3 linked regions of the Homo sapiens genome follow. The protein of the gene in region 3 purifies or fractionates together with the protein of the main gene of each other region. This does not show direct contact. Each region holds a gene or a part of one and is shown on either strand. Other genes may lie near its edges.

Region 1 (7,193 bases), on a different chromosome or scaffold from region 3:
AATGGTACTAATAAAAAGAACATTCAGAATGAATATATTTATAGAGTATAGAAAAGTACTAAATACAGTACCTACATTAGGAGGGGTCAAATCTGCATTTCATGAAGCAAAACAGGAAAGTATTATATATTATGAGACAGATAACGATAGACCACACAAAAGACAAATAACGAACACTGTAATTTTTTTCATGTACACTAAAAACCTTAAAAAGAGAACAATACTAGAGTCAAACTGGACCTTTCAAAGGAGAAAAACACCTACAAATAATTATTTTATTCTAATAGATAATTCATTGTCCATGTTGGTGGTAGAGCTGTTATGTGATCATTTATGAGAATATTTTAAATGTATGATAGTTTTCACTAACCTCTTATGGAGAAATAAAAGATTTACCCCAGCATTCTCTTTTAACCAAAACCAGCAACCACCTTCCATAATTTTAATTTTTCAATAGATACACATACCTACACACACTAAATTGCATTTCCCACCACAATCCCCTATCTCTGACAGTGAAGTAAGACAATACCATAAGAAGATAAATATAGCAAGTCAATTAAAGGCAGAAAGAACGCACCTTCCAGTAAATTCATATCGATGTCATTATTATTCGGCTTGTGCAGGCACGGGTATGTGTTAAACAAATTAGCTACAAAAGCTAAATTAAGTTTAGGATTGCCTGAAACCACATCTGCAGGAGTAACAAACTGTTTGCAGCCCAGTTTATCTGCTTCTTGAAGCATGAGTCCAGCACGCTTCAGGTCATTTGTCTCCTAAACAATAAAACAAAAATGGTTACAATTGAAGTTTTAATTGGCATAATTTTTATTGGTATACATGTTTATAAGCAATTACTTTTCCACAAATATATCAAATAATAACTCAAAATAAGATCAAAATGTGTAGTAATTCCAAGTCAACTTACCCATTCCTTTATTTATTTATTTATTTATTTATTTATGTATTTAGAGACAGAGTCTTGCTCTGTTCCCCAGGCTGGAGTGCAGTGGCGTGATCTTGGCTCACTGCAACCTCTGCCTCTTAGGTTCAAGTGATTCTCCTCCCTCAGCCCCTGAGTAGCTGGGATTACAGACACATGCCACTATGCCCAGCTAATTTTTGTATTTTTAGTAAAGACAGGGTTTTGCCATGTTGGCCAGGCTGGTTTCGAACTCCTGATCCGCCCACCTCGGCCTCCCAAAGTGCTGGGATTATAGCCGTGAGCCACTAAGCCCAGCCCCCGTGCCTTTTAAGTTAAAAGGAAAAAAGTCTCTGAATTTCCTTGCTGGGATAACTGAGTTATATTTTACCCTTTTTGCTAAAATACTCAGCAAAATCCTCAAATATTGTATCAGTAAGCTCCTACTGGTTGCACTATAGATAACTTATTCAAGACCAGCTAGTAGAGTGCCCTCTGGATAACAGGCATAGTTATCATACCCACTGTACACTGAGTGACATTTCCAGAAGGCTCTTCTTGATGAAAAACAAGTTGAAATACATATTTTAAAAATTAAAATCATAGGGAAAAGCACCTTTCACAATTGCAAAACCCTGGAAACAAATGAAACAACCCAAATACCTATAAACAGGAGAGTAGATGAATGAATTTGTATATTCACACAATGACATCCAATATGGGTAACTCTTAGAGATACAAGGCCAAAAAGAAGTACTAGAAATTTAAGTATAACATGATAAACTTTAAAGGAAGTTAAAAAGTAAAATGAAGAATTTAATTTTGTAAGGGATACATTTGGATGAAGGGAAACTACATAAAAAGAAAAGCAGAACAACAATGAACACAAGATTCAAGACTGTGGTTACCACACTGGGCGAAAACCGAGGTGGGATAGGGAAGAACTGTACAGAAAATGTCACGTCAAAGTTTTAGTTTTCCTGTTAGATTGAGAGTTCATGAGGCTTGTTACAATTTCAAAACAAACAACCACACACAAAAATAAATTTAAAAATGGGTATGCACAGACCCATATGAGTATATCATGACCAAAGATAACCTACCTAATTCTGTGCACCAGAGTTGCAAAATAATTAATCATATAAATGAAATCAGAGAAAGCAACAGATTATTAAATTAACAAAGAAAAGTTACCATTGTAGACATCAAAAAATGACAATATGTGGCTGGACGTGGTGGCTCATGCCTGTAATCCCAGCACTTTGGGAGGCAGAGGCAGGCGGATCACTTGAGGTCAGGAGTTTGATACCAGCCTAGCCAACATGGTGAAACCCCGTCTCTACTAAAAACACAAAAATTAACCAGGTGTGGTGGTGTGCACCTGTAATCCCAGCTACTCAGGAAGTGGAGGTAGGAGAATCACTTGAGCCCAGGAGGCGGAGGTTGCCATGAGCCAAGATTGTGTCACTGCACTCCAGCCTGGGCGACAGAGCAAGACTCCATCTAAAAAAAAAAAAAAACAAACAAATAAAGACAACATGTGGACCTTATTTTAGATCCTAATTCAAATAAACTATGAAAAAAATGGCATTTATGAGGCAAGTGGAAATGTCAACATTGACTAGATATTTTGATGATGTTACAGATTGTTGTAATTTTTTTAAGGTATGATAAGGTATTGTGGTTTTATTTTAAAAGTGTCTTTGTCTTTTAGAAATATATATTGAAATATTTATCCATGAAGTAATGTCTAGGATTTGCTTCAAAATAATATAGGAGAGGAGAGAAATAGGGAATAAACGAGATAAGATTGACCATGAATTGGCAGATGTTGAAACTGAGGGATGAGTACCTGATAGTTTAGTATACTAAGTCTGTTCTCTTGAATATATTCAAAATTTTCCATAAGTTTAAGTTCCTAATTTTTTTACTTAAAATGATTTGCACATTTTACAGAGCGTTGCAATACTGTGTTTCTGAAATATGTCATTATAATAATGTGAGATATAATTAATTAGTAATGACTCAAGTTGCCTTTAAAACCAAATGTTACGGACGCCGCACTTTAAGTACGTGATATATTTTCATACAGTCTATTATCTGACCAAATTTTAATGTTTAGAATTCAAGTTTGTCCAACCCACGGCCGGTGGGTCACATGCGGCCCAGGACAGCTTTGAATGTGGCCCAACACAAATTTGTAAACTTTCTTAAAACACTAGATTTTTTTGCACCTTTTTTTTTTTTTTAGCTCATCAGCTATTGTTAGTGTTAGTGTATTTTATGTGTGGCCCAAGACAATTCTTCTTCTAATGTGGCCCAGGGAAGCCAAAAGACTGGACATCCTGATTTAGATAGAACCATCCCTGGTATTTATAACTTATGCTAAAAGAATGAGATTCCTAGGAAGTATGCTTGGTAGGTCAGAATCTGTATCAGTCCTTCCTACACCATGAATATCTATTTTTATTTTGTAGATTTCTAAATATAAGCTGGTAAAACTGATAATTGATTGCTTAAAAATCTAACAACAGGTTGTTGCTTCCTTTCCTGGCATATGCTGACAGTCAAAAGAGCACCCTGGTGAGTTCCAATTGCCTTGCACCAGGGAAACATGAATGTAGGATTGATTCCACAAATACTCCAGGTCACAATTACGCAGTTCCCTTTCTTCCGTCATGATAGCCAGTTGGCTTGACATGGAGGCTTGGAGCCTTGGGCATGGAAAAAACTTCCATAGAGCAAAGCACCAAACTTTAATGGAGGGCTGAGGGCTCTACTGGGGAATGCTGCTTGTAGAGAACTGTACTCTAAATTTGACTGTACCTGCTACTGAAATTCAAATTCATAGTCAAAAAGTAGAACAGTAGTTACCAGGGCCTGGGGGAAGGGGAAAATGGGGAGTTATTGTTTAATGAGTACAGAATTTCCCTACAGGATGATGAAAAGTTTGTAGAGATGGATAATGGTGATAGCTGCACAACAATGCAAATGTACTGAATGCCACTGAACTGAACACTGAAAATGATAAAAATGGTAAATTTTCTACGTCTGTTTTACCACAATATATTTTAAAAGTTAAAAATTGCACTCACATTAATTCCTGAAAGGTCAATGGCAATGGCAGGTCCATCTTCCCCACCTTTAGGGGCAATCTGATTAAGCAGATGAAAATAGGCTCTCGAGTCCTTCAAGGAAAGATATGAAATAGCATTTTTAAAACGAATAAAATCATCATTGAATTTAGGGAAAACAAGTGCTCAAACTGAAGAAATTGCCTCTATCTCAAAGAATGGAATAACTTTAAAAATAAAGAATTACTTGTAGGTTCCTGAATGTACCATGCTGTTTCACACTTCAGAGCTTCAAAGCAATCCTGTTTCACACCTCAGAGTTTATAGCAATGCTGTTTCCTGCACCTGGATACCCTCCCTTACTTTTCCATCTGTTTACACACCCAAGCATCAACATCAGTTAAGATTCAGGTCAAGTATTATCTCCCGTATGCCTTCCCTGGATTCTCTAGGATGAACTAAGAACCCCTCTTCTGTAGTGCACAGCACCCCTTGCCTATCTTAATAAGTAAACAGTGATCACACTATTAAATCATCTAATGTCATTGTCTCCAAAGATGGATATATAGTTCTTCCCCATGCATACATTAACTCTTCCCACCAAAAGGCAGAAGCTATTTCCTGTCCTCTTTAATTTGGACAGGCCTTATGATTCACGTTAACTAAGAGAATGCTGTGAAAGTGATGTTCTGGGGCTTCCACGCCCAAATCTTAAGAGCTTCTGCTTCCTCTCTCTTAAAGTTAACCTCTACATAAGAAGTCCAACTATCTGAGACTATCATGCTGTGAGGAAGCCTGAGCTCACCATGTAGAGAGGCCTTGTGGAGGAGCACTGAGGCACCAGACATGTGACTGAGGCCTTTGTGTACTTTCCAGATGAGCCCAACTGACAGCTGAATGTAATCGAGTTAGTAATCCCAGCCAAAACCATGTGAAGCAGAAGAACCACCCAGCCAAGATGCATCAACCCACAAAATGATGAGAAATAATCATTATTTAAGCAAATTTTGCATAATTTGCTATATAGCAATAGATAACTGAAATATCCCTCTGGTACATGTTTGTCTCTGAGTAGAATTGGCAAGCTTCTCAAGAGCTGAGTCTTTGCATCGCCTGGGCATAATGCCCCTCAGAAAGAGCTGAATAAATGTTTGATTAGCTGAATTTTCAGAGATTTCAGAATAAGAGAAATCTCCCAAATAAACTTTCAAATATAACAGTGTATAGTAGATGAAAGCAGAGAAATAAAATGTCACTTCAAATTGAGAGACTGTCCTGTAGGCCATTATGGAAAAAGATAACCTGACTGAAGGTTATATAGCTAAAGACGGAACATGAATTAGAGCCAGCACTGATTACTCTTGGGGGGCAGGATGGGGGAGGACATAAAGAAACAGAGAGAAGAAAAAAGTCACAGCGACCCGGCTTGGCAATGCCCATCCAGGCAGTAACCAAGGGAAAGTTGTCATTAGACAAAAATGCCTGTTATAGTTTCCTTGACAAGATTCTCCCAGTAGAGAGGGAAGTGTTTTAAGCTACCCTGGTTAAGGCACATACCTTAAGATCCCCTTTATTTACTGATTCTCTGTACCCTCAGATAATCTGATTTCCTGTTAGCTGGTTATTGGCAAAGTGGGAGTAAGAGTGTTAAACCAGTAAACAGATATAATTATTAGTCCAAATGAACAGACTGACATCCTCATTATAATCTAGCAGATCTCAGGCATAAAAAATGAGAAAGTGTGTTTTAATCTGTTGAGGCTAGCACCTCTTTCCTCTCACAGTCAGTTGTAGTTCTTATTAAAAGCCAATATATCTGGTTTTTAGAAAATATATATTTTGTGAATATAATTGGGGGATCTACTTCACACAGTAATGCAAATTTTCATTTTCTATCCCAAGTGTTCTTGTGAATTTAATTCAAATTTAAGTCTGAACCCCTTTTATTTTTACACTGCACATCCTTATTTCATGTCACAAATTTGAACATTTAAATATAAACCTTAATGTCTTGGCTGAAGTTGCTGATGGTATGCCATCCTGCATTGGTCAGATGGTAGTTCACCCATCGCAGCAGTAATTCCTCGGGAGAAAGCTTCATCAGCTCCTCTAGTTCCTCACCTTCATTTAACAATGCAATCAGAGCTGAGGGCAAAACAGCGAAATGTAAATTCTTCCCATAGCAAGTACATGTCAATGAACAGCAAATATTTCTAATGATCTTACCTTCATTCCTGGAAATCTCAATATCAGCAAAAAGGCCAACTTTGATGATCTGCCAGAGAAGTCCCAAGACCAAGTGAGGTTTTCCTTCTTTGAGATCTGATGCACCAATGTTGACCACTGTACAACCAATGGCTGAGGCAGAATTCAGAGCTAGGTTTAAATTTTCCTGAATTGCCAAAAAAAAAAGTACACATGAGGAAGTCCTTTCTAAGGTCTTATCTATAAAAATTATCTATAAGAAACAATGGACTGCCAAATTTCAGATTTATAAACATAATATTTATACAACGAAAATACCACTACTCAAAAAAAAAAACACATGGTTTTAACTGTTACTTTATATGCCAATGACTTTCAAATCCCTATTTCCACCCAGACCTCCTCTGAGTCTCCACTCTAAGCTGTGTATCTATATATGTACTTGGTTATGTCTACCTGGATGTTCTGCCAATACCTCAAACTCAACATGATATTTTTGTAAAGTGCTCATTTGGAAGCACTTCTTTAAAAAATGATGTACAATTAGGTTTTAAGATAATTTTAAAGTAACTCTTAAGATGGATTTTACAGATGAGGAAACTGCAGCACTGACAGTTTCCACAGTGGAAAGGCCGGGGTCTGATCCCAGCGGTCTCCCGAGCCCATCCTCTTTTTTATTTATTTTTTTTGAGACGGAGTCTCACTCTGTCACCCAAGCTGGAGTGCAATGGCACTATCTTGGCTCACTGCAAGCTCCGCCTCCTGGGCTCACGCCATTCTCCTGCCTCAGCCTCCTGAGTAGCTGAGACTACAGGCACCCGCCACCACGCCCGGCCAGTTTTTCGTGTTTTTAGTAGAGATGGCGTTTCACCATGTTAGCCAGGATGGTCTAGATCTCCTGACCTCGTAATCTGCCCGCCTCGGCCTCCCAAAGTGCTGGGATTACAGGCGTGAGCCACCGCACCTGGCCCAGAGCCCATCCTCTTAATCGC
Region 2 (7,147 bases), on a different chromosome or scaffold from region 3:
TCTGGCAAAGGGATATACAAATTTAAAAATAATAATAAATGCTACCTAAAAACTTCTGTATAACAGAGGTGGCAAACTCAAACGTCTAAAGAAGCACCATACAACAGACCTTTCTACAATGATAAAAATGTTCATGTCTGCACTGTCCAATAAGGTAGCCCCTACATGTGGCTACTGAGCATTTGAAATGTGACTGGTGCATCTGAGGAATGAAATTTTTAACTCAGTTAAATGGCCATATGTGGCTAGTGTCTACTGTATCGCACAGTACAGGTTTGTAGGGTCCAGGCAAGTGAATATCAGCAAAGTGATACTGATGTGAATGCAGATTCATGACCATCTAAAGGAGGTGCAAACAGTTATGATGGAATTTGAACTTGCTGTGGCCAAATGATTCAAAACTTTTAAGTAAAGCCAGAATTTCAGATTTTAGGTGAAATTTATCAATTTTTAAATGTTGGCAATGAACTTAAAAAATTTTAACGACCTTAACCAAACATTCAGATTTTGTATTTTTGACCTCTGAACTGTATTATTATTCATTCATTCTGAAAATGTTTAATGAGTGCCCACTAAATGCTAGGCACCATAATGGATGCTAGAGATACTGCAGAGAACAAAACAGATTTTAAAAAACCCTCCCCAATTTGCAAAAATAGTAATGAGAAAATATGCTAGTATATACAAAAATAAATCTGAAAAAAGATACACCAAACTATTCACAATTATTTTGAATGGCAGGATGGTGGTTAAGAGGGATTATTAGTATTTTCACCTTATATATTTCTGTGCAGTTCAAATTTCTACGGGATGTATTATTACTTTTTTAAACCTCCACTCAGGCAACTATTTCTGTAATTCCCATTGTTTTTCTTTTCTTTTCGAGACAGGGTCTCACTTTGTCGTTGTCCAGGCTGGAGTGCAGTGGTGCCACCTCGGCTCACTGCAACCTCGCCTCTTGGGTTCAAGCAATTCTCGTGCCTCAGTCTCCTCAGTAGCTGGGATTACAAGCATGCATTACCACATCTGGCTAATTTTTGTATTTTTAGTAGAGACGGGGTTTCGGCAAATTGCCCAGGCTAGTCTCGAACTCCTGGCCTCAAGTGATCTGCTCACCTCGGTCTCCCAAAGTGTTGGGATTATAGGCCTGAGCCACCGCACCTGGCCAGCCCAGCTAATTTTTTAATTTTTTTCTGTAGACACGGTGTGTCACTATGTTGCCCAGGCTGGTTTTTAACTCCTGGGCTCAACTGATCATACTGCACTGCGAAGTGTTGGGATTACAGTCATGAGCCACCACGCCTGGACTTTCGTTGGTTTTCCATGGCTTCCACAAACTCCTTCATATGGCGAACCAGGCCCTCCTACTACTTCTCCAGGCACCTTCCCCAACCCTCCTTCACCCATTCCTAAATTCCAAACTCCCTGATTTACTTACACCCCACAGAAAAAGAAAGCTCTCATCTCTATGTCTATGCACATCTATTCACACTGCTTAGCTCTGCACATGACAAGCAAACTCCTTCTCATTTCTCATGACTTGTGTAAAAATTTTAAAAGAATCCTATTGACACAGAAGGTATAAGCAAAAGCCCCAACACTACGCATATATAATTAAAACCATTATCATTTCTATCACTGACAACCAAGTGTCGTTTTGAATAGAAACAGTGCCTGATATTTTGTAATACCCGGTTTATCCTGAAGAAAGGGTAAAGAATGAGGGAAGAAATCTATTCATGCATTTTCAAGGAGCCAATCACTAGACTACAGAGCACATAAGAAAAAAAAAAATCAGGGCTGACATATTCTCTTCAAAGAGCTGTGGCAGGTCAACAAACATAGCTGGCAGACTTCTAGGATAACAAAATTAATGATGTGAGAAAATTAAACAATTTGGATTGTTAGCCTCTACGAACATTTCAGATCCTTAATTCTTTAAGTACCATCTCCGAATGAGCAAGTGCAGCACTCACTGGCACTCACAGCTGAAGCCTGGAAGACAGTTTTAACAACTCTTGCTGAAAATGACTATTTCTTCTCTAGTTTCTATGGAAACAGCTGTCAGATTGGCAAAAATAGGACATGTACTTTAAAATAATCATTCAAGCAAAGTACACACATGATGGAAGGCTTTAAAAAAGAATTGGACGGCAGCAGACTTGGTTCTTAAGCTTCCAAATGTCAGACTACACCCCTTCACCCCGGCTGAGAATGACGGAGATGAACCTAAATCCTTTTAGCGAGGGTTGCACGACCTTGATCAACGCCTGAATGCCAAATAAGGGATTTTCATCTCCCTGGACTACAATTTCTTGTTGAGGATTGCACGGCACAATAAAACTGTTGCTCCACACACAGGCGACATTTAAACAGTATACAGTGAGTTCTGTAGACGAGTTTACGAGGAAATTGTTAAAACTCCCCGGAACTGCTTAGACGGGGAATGTTCTGGTTTGCCCTGCCGAGTTTAGGCTGGAAAACGTGTTCAGTTTCTCCTGAAGAGGGAAGGGGTGAAAGAGACGAATGCCCGACGCGCCGGGAGGCGGTCCCCTCTGGCAGAGGTGCCGGGTGAGGAGCCCGAAGCCCCGCGGGTGAGAAACCCTGCTCTGAAAGCGGAGCCGCGGATAAGGGCGGGCTGAGGGGGAGGGCAGGCGGCCCACGAAAGTACTGCCACGGGGCAGACACACGGGGTCACCGGCGTGCCCCGGGCAAGGCTAGGGGAGAACCGGGCTCCCCCAGGACAGATCCCCTCCGTCTCCCGCCCCGGCGCCCCCCGCCCCTCCCCTCCACGCAGCCTTATCGCCCACCCACGCCTCCTCCCGTACCCCCATCCCCAAGGATCCCCACTCCTTGCCCGGGCGCCCCCGCAGGCGCTCTGCGCTCCGCCCCCTCCCCACTGCCGCACTCTGCCTCCTCCCCTGGGCACGATCCTACTCGGAAAAGCTGGGGAAAAGCGTCACCGTGAGGACTGACTCAAGCAGAAGCGAAAGCGGTGACACCGCAGACCCGACCTATGCGCAGGCGCGCACCCGCACTTCCTGCCCGCCATACCGGCCGGGGCGCCCTTCGCTCCGCCCACACCCGGCAGTCAATACAGCCGCCCAGAGTCGTTCTCCCAGCTGCCCCGGGCCCCGCGGAGACTGTGGCGCTCTAGCGCCTCCGTGTGGCTTAAGGCGGGACATGGCCCTGGGCTGGGCTGCTTGCCTAGGAACAACTTTCTCCCGTCTTTGGTGAGTTGGGTCCTCTAAAGAATGATCCACGCAAGGCTGTGTCCGTTGTAGTCTCTACGGCAGTACCGGCCAAAAGGGAAGAGACTCGAAGACTGCCAAAAGACGAAGGCTTCCTGGTTCTGAATCTGCATTCATAGAAATAGTCTTTGGAGTATGGGAACAGTGCTTTCATATGATTTTTGGAGGGACGCATTTTAAGAAAGATGAAGTATAATCTTAAGTGTCTGGAGGTTAAAGTAGCTGGCTCCAAAATTATGTGTATAGTATGTTTCATTCATTTCACCAAAACATATTTCTTGAGCATCAACTACATTTTAAGTGCCAAGGATGTAGCAGTGAACAAGACAGACCTGAATTTCGTGAACTTTATATCACAGTGAGGAAAGACAGGCGATTAAAAAAAAGTGTACAAATAAACACAAATAAATAAAAGTGTACAAATAAGCCAGTACAAATAAACACTGGATTGTGATGGATGAGTAGTGAGGTCTCATATTAGTTTATTATGTTTACACTCTGTGCACAATGAAAACATCTCAAAGGACATAAACACTATGTCAAAGGACATAAACACTATGAACAATTTTAGGTATCTCTTTTGGAAAATGTGTAAGTTACTGTTTCGTTTATCTTATGTGTATTTTATGATTTGCCTTTTACTTTGAAAGGGATATCCTGGAAAACCCCTGACAACTGGACCCCTAAAAACTGAAGTAGGAGGTCCTTCAGTCTTCGTAGGGTTTATCTCCCAAACTCTGGAGTGCACATGTCTTACCAAAGTTTCCAGCATGCTAGCCACCTCTTGCTCATCTTGCCTGGTTAGCATAATGTCATTGGTGAAATAGATGGGTGTGATGTTCTCTGGAATTTCCAGTTGATCCAGCTCCTTTTGGACTGCGCAGAGCCATTATGTCATTATCCTGGGTCCACCTGATTTCCAAAGGGGCCAGACTGGCAAGTTAAGTAGAGATATGGCAGGGATGACCAACCACTCTTGTATATTTCAGGTCTTTAATTATGACATTAATCTCCACCATCATCTCACTATCCCCTCAGATGAAATATCGGTTTTGATTTATTATCTTCACTTGGAAAGAAGGACAGCTTCAGAGGCTTCCCATTGGCTTTCCCCACCATGATAACTCAAGACCAAGGACCCTGAGCTTCTTACCAATGTGGAGATTGCTCCAGCTGCCCAATATGTACTCCCAATTATGCACTCAGGAACTAAGAAAATGACTACTGGATGGGTCAGTGTATTCCTGGACCCACTGTAAGCTGGACATTATCCAGGACTCTGCTTATTACCTGATCCCCATAAGCCCCCACACTTAGAGAGGAGCCATGTGTGTTACATACTTTGGGTAACACCTGTGAAATGTCTGGGTATTCCTCTTTCCTCAACATAAAATCAGTCAAGAAAATGGCCGTGGGACACAGACCAAAGAGTAATCATTAATTACAGTAAATATTTGTTTCAGTATTGCAGGATTCTTCTTTATAGGGACCCAACAACCTCTTAAGTCAACAGATTCTGTGGTCTCAGTGTGAAGATAGGCTCAGGTCTGAGACTTGAGCAATGAGCAGTGCCTTTTATTAAGCAACTACTCCCTGCATAGGATAAATAGCTTCTTGTCTTCCTCCAGTTGTAGATGTTAGGCAACACTCTTGTTGGCTGCCCGTCTGTTTTTCCCCTAGGGAGACCTTATGCTATTAAAGCCCTCCACAACCTCCTGTGGATCAAGCCCCCTTGGCTGCTCCTCTGCCCTTGGCAGATGTTACAGTAATTACATCTTCTGGTGTCCTCATGGTTAAAGCCACCACCTGGCTTCTACTACTTCAGGATCCTGTTATCCCAATGGATATTATCAAGCCCAGCCCTGTGATTGCCTCTCCTACCGTCAGCCCTTCCCTCCAGAGGAGAGCCTTCTCTGAACTTCTTAGTGATGCTAGTGCCCCTCACGCCAGTGCATTCCCCATGGCCATAGAATATGATGCATCCTCTGGGCCTCCCATGGAACATTCCCCTCTGTCTGCCTTCGGGCTCTACACACAAAAAAAATTCTTTCAGGCAAGTCCACTTCCCTCAGCTCCTCTGTCCTTCTACCATTTGCAAGGGCAATTCGGGCATTCCTGCTTTACTCTGCATGCACTATGGCTTTCTCTCAGCTTCTAATAGTCACCTAGCAGTGAGTTTACCCATCTTCTACAGTCCCAAGTCCCAAGAAAGTGCCCCCAAGACAATGAATTTTTATTTAGCCAGGCTTGTTCTGGAATAGGAATTAAAAGAAATTAAAGAATGTGTAAACAGAAACTCAGTTCTATGTAAGAAAACCCACCTCCCCCCGAGAAAGAGAAAGAGCTGGAGTCCTTTAAATATTAACTGCCTGTTTTTCTGTGGCTAGTGAGCCTTATCTCTCCCTTTCCCAGGCATTGTAAAGACCCTGTTTCTTTAGCTGTGCGCTGCAAGGTCACTAGACAGATAAACTCAAGCCATTAAGACACGTTTTTCCTTGAAAAGTAAGAAATGATGTAATGCATGCCTCAATTAATTAAATAACTGTCTTTGTTTCTTGCTTCTGTAACATGCTTCTCCCTGCACAGATCTCCCCCAACCCCATAAAATGCTTAAAAGGTAACTTGACTCTTTGTTCGGGGCTCAGTCCTTTGGATGTTAATCCGACTGGGCCGGTGCACCTAAATAATAAATCCTCCTCAACCTCTTGGTATCTCTGATTCCTTATCAATCCCGCCACAGTTCCTGCCCACTTTGATCAAGCACCTTCAGAAATCCCATTCCAGGGGTCCTCTCCTGGCTCCTGCTGGTACACGCTAGGTAGTTCCTTTAGCTCCTACATTATGCAGTCTTCCTCCCCACACCTTTACAGGCCCAACACACAGGCAGCTGGGTGATGCTGGAATTTAACCTGAGTTATCACCCTGGCAGATATCTAAGAGGAGATGGGGCAGGTCCTGAGTGGGCACCTATTTATTCCTTACGCTAGAGGCTTCAACACTGCCTTCCCACTTAAGGGAAGTGTTAGCTTTGACTAGGGAAGGGTCAGCCACCTCTGCAAGCTCTGAGGATCTGCAGTCAGTATCCTCAGGGATTCTATCAGGATGTCCCATTTCATGCTTCAAGATTCCAGATTTTCCCAACCAGGGCCCAGACCTGCCTTGGCTAAGCGTTTAAACATCTCTGGGGCTCTACAACTCTTTTCATGAAAATCTCTTTTGCTCCTCTGCTGTCCACACTCCTCCACTGCAGGTGATAAGAGCCTGTCTGTTACCTACCAAGGAGACCTCTGACTCCCACTCAGCCTTAACTGTTTACAAATGACCCTCACTTTCTCATTATCCCATGCAGGGCATCAACACAATGTAGCAATAACCAGCCCACTGCACTGTTCTTTCAGACACTGCTCCCTCCATCTTTCAAGTGCATTAACTATCTCACCTAAATGGCATTGCCCTCCACTGGGCCAGTTTCCCAGGTCGCCATCACTGAAATCCACACGGGGGCCACTATCTTGTGCCAGACACTATCCAAGACCCCACATTCCACTCAAGATGGAGTTCTTGTAGCCAGTTGGGCAATTAATGAGCCACTCTCAGAGCCGATCTTACCATCTTCTTCTCAGATCACCCCACTTCTAGTCCACCTGTATCAACAGGCCCTCTAAAAAGCAGATGCCAGGGTGGAATCAGATGTGCAAGACATATTTACTGCGTGGAAAATCCTGGGAAGGATAATGGAGCAGGAGCAGGAATAGACAGGAAGGGCCCTCAGATCATGACACTGGTTAAAGGAGAGAGGGAAAGAAGAAAGACTGGATTAGAAGCACCTCAGGTAGTAGCACAGTTCTAAGAAGGTTTTGAAAATGAGGAGTCCTTAGGCCAAAATTGCCTGCTTA
Region 3 (2,722 bases):
CCCCCTAGGGGGCAGAACCACTTCTTCCGTGAAGTATCCTCAGCAGTCCCAAATACCCTCAGCCAAGCTGCCCAGACTGTTTTCCTTCCTCCAGTGATGACCCAGCCTTGGAGTTCTTCAAGTTCTTGGAATTGTTAAGCACCATGTGACCATCACCATGTGTCAGACCAGTGAGGAGGTCAGGAGAGAGAAGCGTCCTCGTGGCTTGCCCTCAGGAGCTCACAAGGCTCTGCTGGTTACAAGGCCTGGCCCCTCTCCACGAGATGTGCTTTGGGATCCACAAGGAGAGTGCTTACCCAGAACAAGTGACAGACAAGGCCAACTCAGGGACAGGACAGTCACCATGTGTGTCCCATGGCATCCCAAGTTGAGCAGTGCTAGGGCCCAGGGTCCTGGGAGCAGGAACAAAGTTGGAAATGGAAGCCTATGCCTATCAAACGATAGGAAAGTCCTGAGATGAGGCTGAGAAAACAGTTTGTGAGATGACAGGATCAGGAAGCAGGGAGGCTTGGAAGGCAGATACAGGGAGGAAAAATCTTCAAGGGCTGCCGCAGAAGGAAAAGTCCAGGCCATGCAACTGAAACTGTTTATTGAAACCTCAGTTCTACAAAAGCGTGAAAAACCCTGATACAAAGCAGTGGCCAGAGAGGCCTGGGAAGAGAATACCTGGGAGAAGAACCAGAAGAGAGGGAAACCTAGGAGCAGGACACTAAGAGAAGACTGGAAGACAAAAGATCAGGGTTGAAGGTCCCAGCAGTCCTTGGCTCCATTAGACTAAAGCTAAGGAATGGGAGTGAAAAGGGTTCCCTGCCTCACCCAGCAGCTCCCACCTGAACCCATCAGTCCCCGGCTCTTCTGCCTCAGGGACATCACACAGGCCCATGCCAACATTTCCTTTCTCCTCTCACCCCACTTCCCTTATCTCCCACCTATACTCTTCCATCCTAGGGAAATCAAAAGTAAAAGTCTAAAAAATCCCAGGGAGGCAGAGAGGGGCTTCTATGTCCATCTGGGACATGTCCCTGGTCACCAAGCGGAAGCTCTCCCTGGCGGCATCACTGTCCTGGCCAAGCAGCCAGCCACTGCGATCTAGGAGTGAATTACCTTCAGTCCTTCTGCCCCACCACCCCATAAGCTCCCACCCAGGAGGACAGGGGACCTGCCAAGGACCCAGCGAGGCAGACAGGATCTGAATCAAGCTTTGCTCCTCCAGGTTCTCAGAAACTCCCAAACCCTCTTAATGCATTCCTCACAGCCCTACCTAGCCTGGGAAAACGAAAGACTTGAGGCGAGCCAGCTCCATGACACTGAAAAGGGAACATTGCTGAGGCTGAGGAAGTGAAAGGAGCACCGGGCTCCAAGGCCAGGGGGGAGCCAGGCCATAGGTATGGTACCAGGGGCTGGACAGCGCAGTGGGGACTGTACGGTTGGGGTGGAGGCAGGCATGGCAGGTTGGGGAGTCTCTCTGGAGCTTCTGGCAAAGGTGGCAGTTATGAAGAAGAGTGGGAGGGGCAGGGGGGTCTGGGGGAGGCAATGGTGGAGGAGTCAGTGAGGCCAGAAGACTGCCCCAGAGTGACCGCAGCCCCATGCTGCCTTCCAGGCAGCTGGAGACATTAGCGAGAGACGGCAGGCATTGTGGCACAGAAGGTATGCAGGGCTCCAGGAGGCAACGGGAGGTCAGTCCAAGGTCAGGCGGCCCAGGTGTAGGGATGCAGGACAGCCCCAAAGACTGATGTATTACGGCCACCGATGCCACAGCCAGGGCCACACTGCTCACATATGCCACAGCTAACAGGCAAGACAGCTGCAGGAGAGGAGATAAGAAAGAAGGAATCTGTCTTTAACACATTCACCCCTTGTCTCTAGAAATCTGTGTTCCAGTTGGAGGTCTCTATAGCCATTTACACCCCACTCTGCCCATCTATTCCCAACCCCATCTCCTGGGCTTTTCAGCAATCACTTCACACCATCCCACCCTACACACCGGCCTGCTCAAGCTCCCTATCCTTCCGAGCCCCTCCTCACCTTTACCAGCCGCTGGCAGAGGGAGCCCAGGGCCAACTGCCAGGTCGGCTGCTCCAGCAGCACACACAGGTCTGTGTAGGTGTACCAGCCTCGCCACCGTCCCTGCTGCTCAGCCACACTGGGGGAAGTGGAGAAATGACAAGAGTATGCAACTGTCCTGCAGCCAGCCCAGTGGCACCCTCATACCACTCAGGACCCACCAGGAAACACTGGGAAGCCTGTTAAACCCAGATTCCTAGGCTATCTGCTGATCTAGAAACTAAGGGTGAGACCAAGACCTATATTTTATTTATTTTTATTTATTTATTTTGTTAAGACAGGATCTTGCTGTCTCCCAGGCTGGAGTGCAGTAGTGCAATCATAGCTCACTGCAGACTCAACATCCTGGACTCAAATGATCCTCTTGTCTCAGCCTCCTGAGTAGCTGGGATTATGGGTGTACACCACTGCATCTGGCTAGTATTTTTTTCTGGTAGGGTCAGGCATCTTGCTATATTGCCCAGGCTGGTCTCGAACTCCTGGACCCAAGTAATCCTCCAGCCTCACCCTCCCAGAGTGCTAGGATTATAGACATAACTACCATACCCACCCAATACATGTATTTTAAATAAGCTGCTTCTCACCTTCCCAAAGGTGATGAAGAAGAGGACAGATGGGTCTGGGAACCACTATCTGGGCAATTCTCTTTCTTGTCTCC

What was found.
Region 1: the proteins of CNPPD1 (region 3) and PLS1 purify together in Homo sapiens (affinity purification with mass spectrometry; 2 studies listed by BioGRID and IntAct, with this or other methods). This does not show direct contact.
Region 2: the proteins of CNPPD1 (region 3) and OMA1 purify together in Homo sapiens (affinity purification with mass spectrometry; 2 studies listed by BioGRID and IntAct, with this or other methods). This does not show direct contact.

What each region holds. Positions count from the first base shown.
Region 1 is NC_000003.12:142,683,201-142,690,393, reverse strand, and holds part of PLS1 (plastin-1), read right to left. Parts: intron 6,389-7,193; coding exon 6,223-6,388; intron 6,142-6,222; coding exon 5,999-6,141; intron 4,111-5,998; coding exon 4,018-4,110; intron 777-4,017; coding exon 581-776; intron 1-580. UniProt on the Homo sapiens protein: Actin-bundling protein. In the inner ear, it is required for stereocilia formation. Mediates liquid packing of actin filaments that is necessary for stereocilia to grow to their proper dimensions.
Region 2 is NC_000001.11:58,543,727-58,550,873, forward strand, and holds the start of OMA1 (metalloendopeptidase OMA1, mitochondrial precursor), read right to left. Parts: upstream 3,001-7,147; 5' UTR 2,977-3,000; intron 1-2,976. UniProt on the Homo sapiens protein: Metalloprotease that is part of the quality control system in the inner membrane of mitochondria. Activated in response to various mitochondrial stress, leading to the proteolytic cleavage of target proteins, such as OPA1, UQCC3 and DELE1.
Region 3 is NC_000002.12:219,171,325-219,174,046, forward strand, and holds the end of CNPPD1 (protein CNPPD1), read right to left. Parts: intron 2,144-2,722; coding exon 2,026-2,143; intron 1,805-2,025; coding exon 1,262-1,804; 3' UTR 573-1,261; downstream 1-572.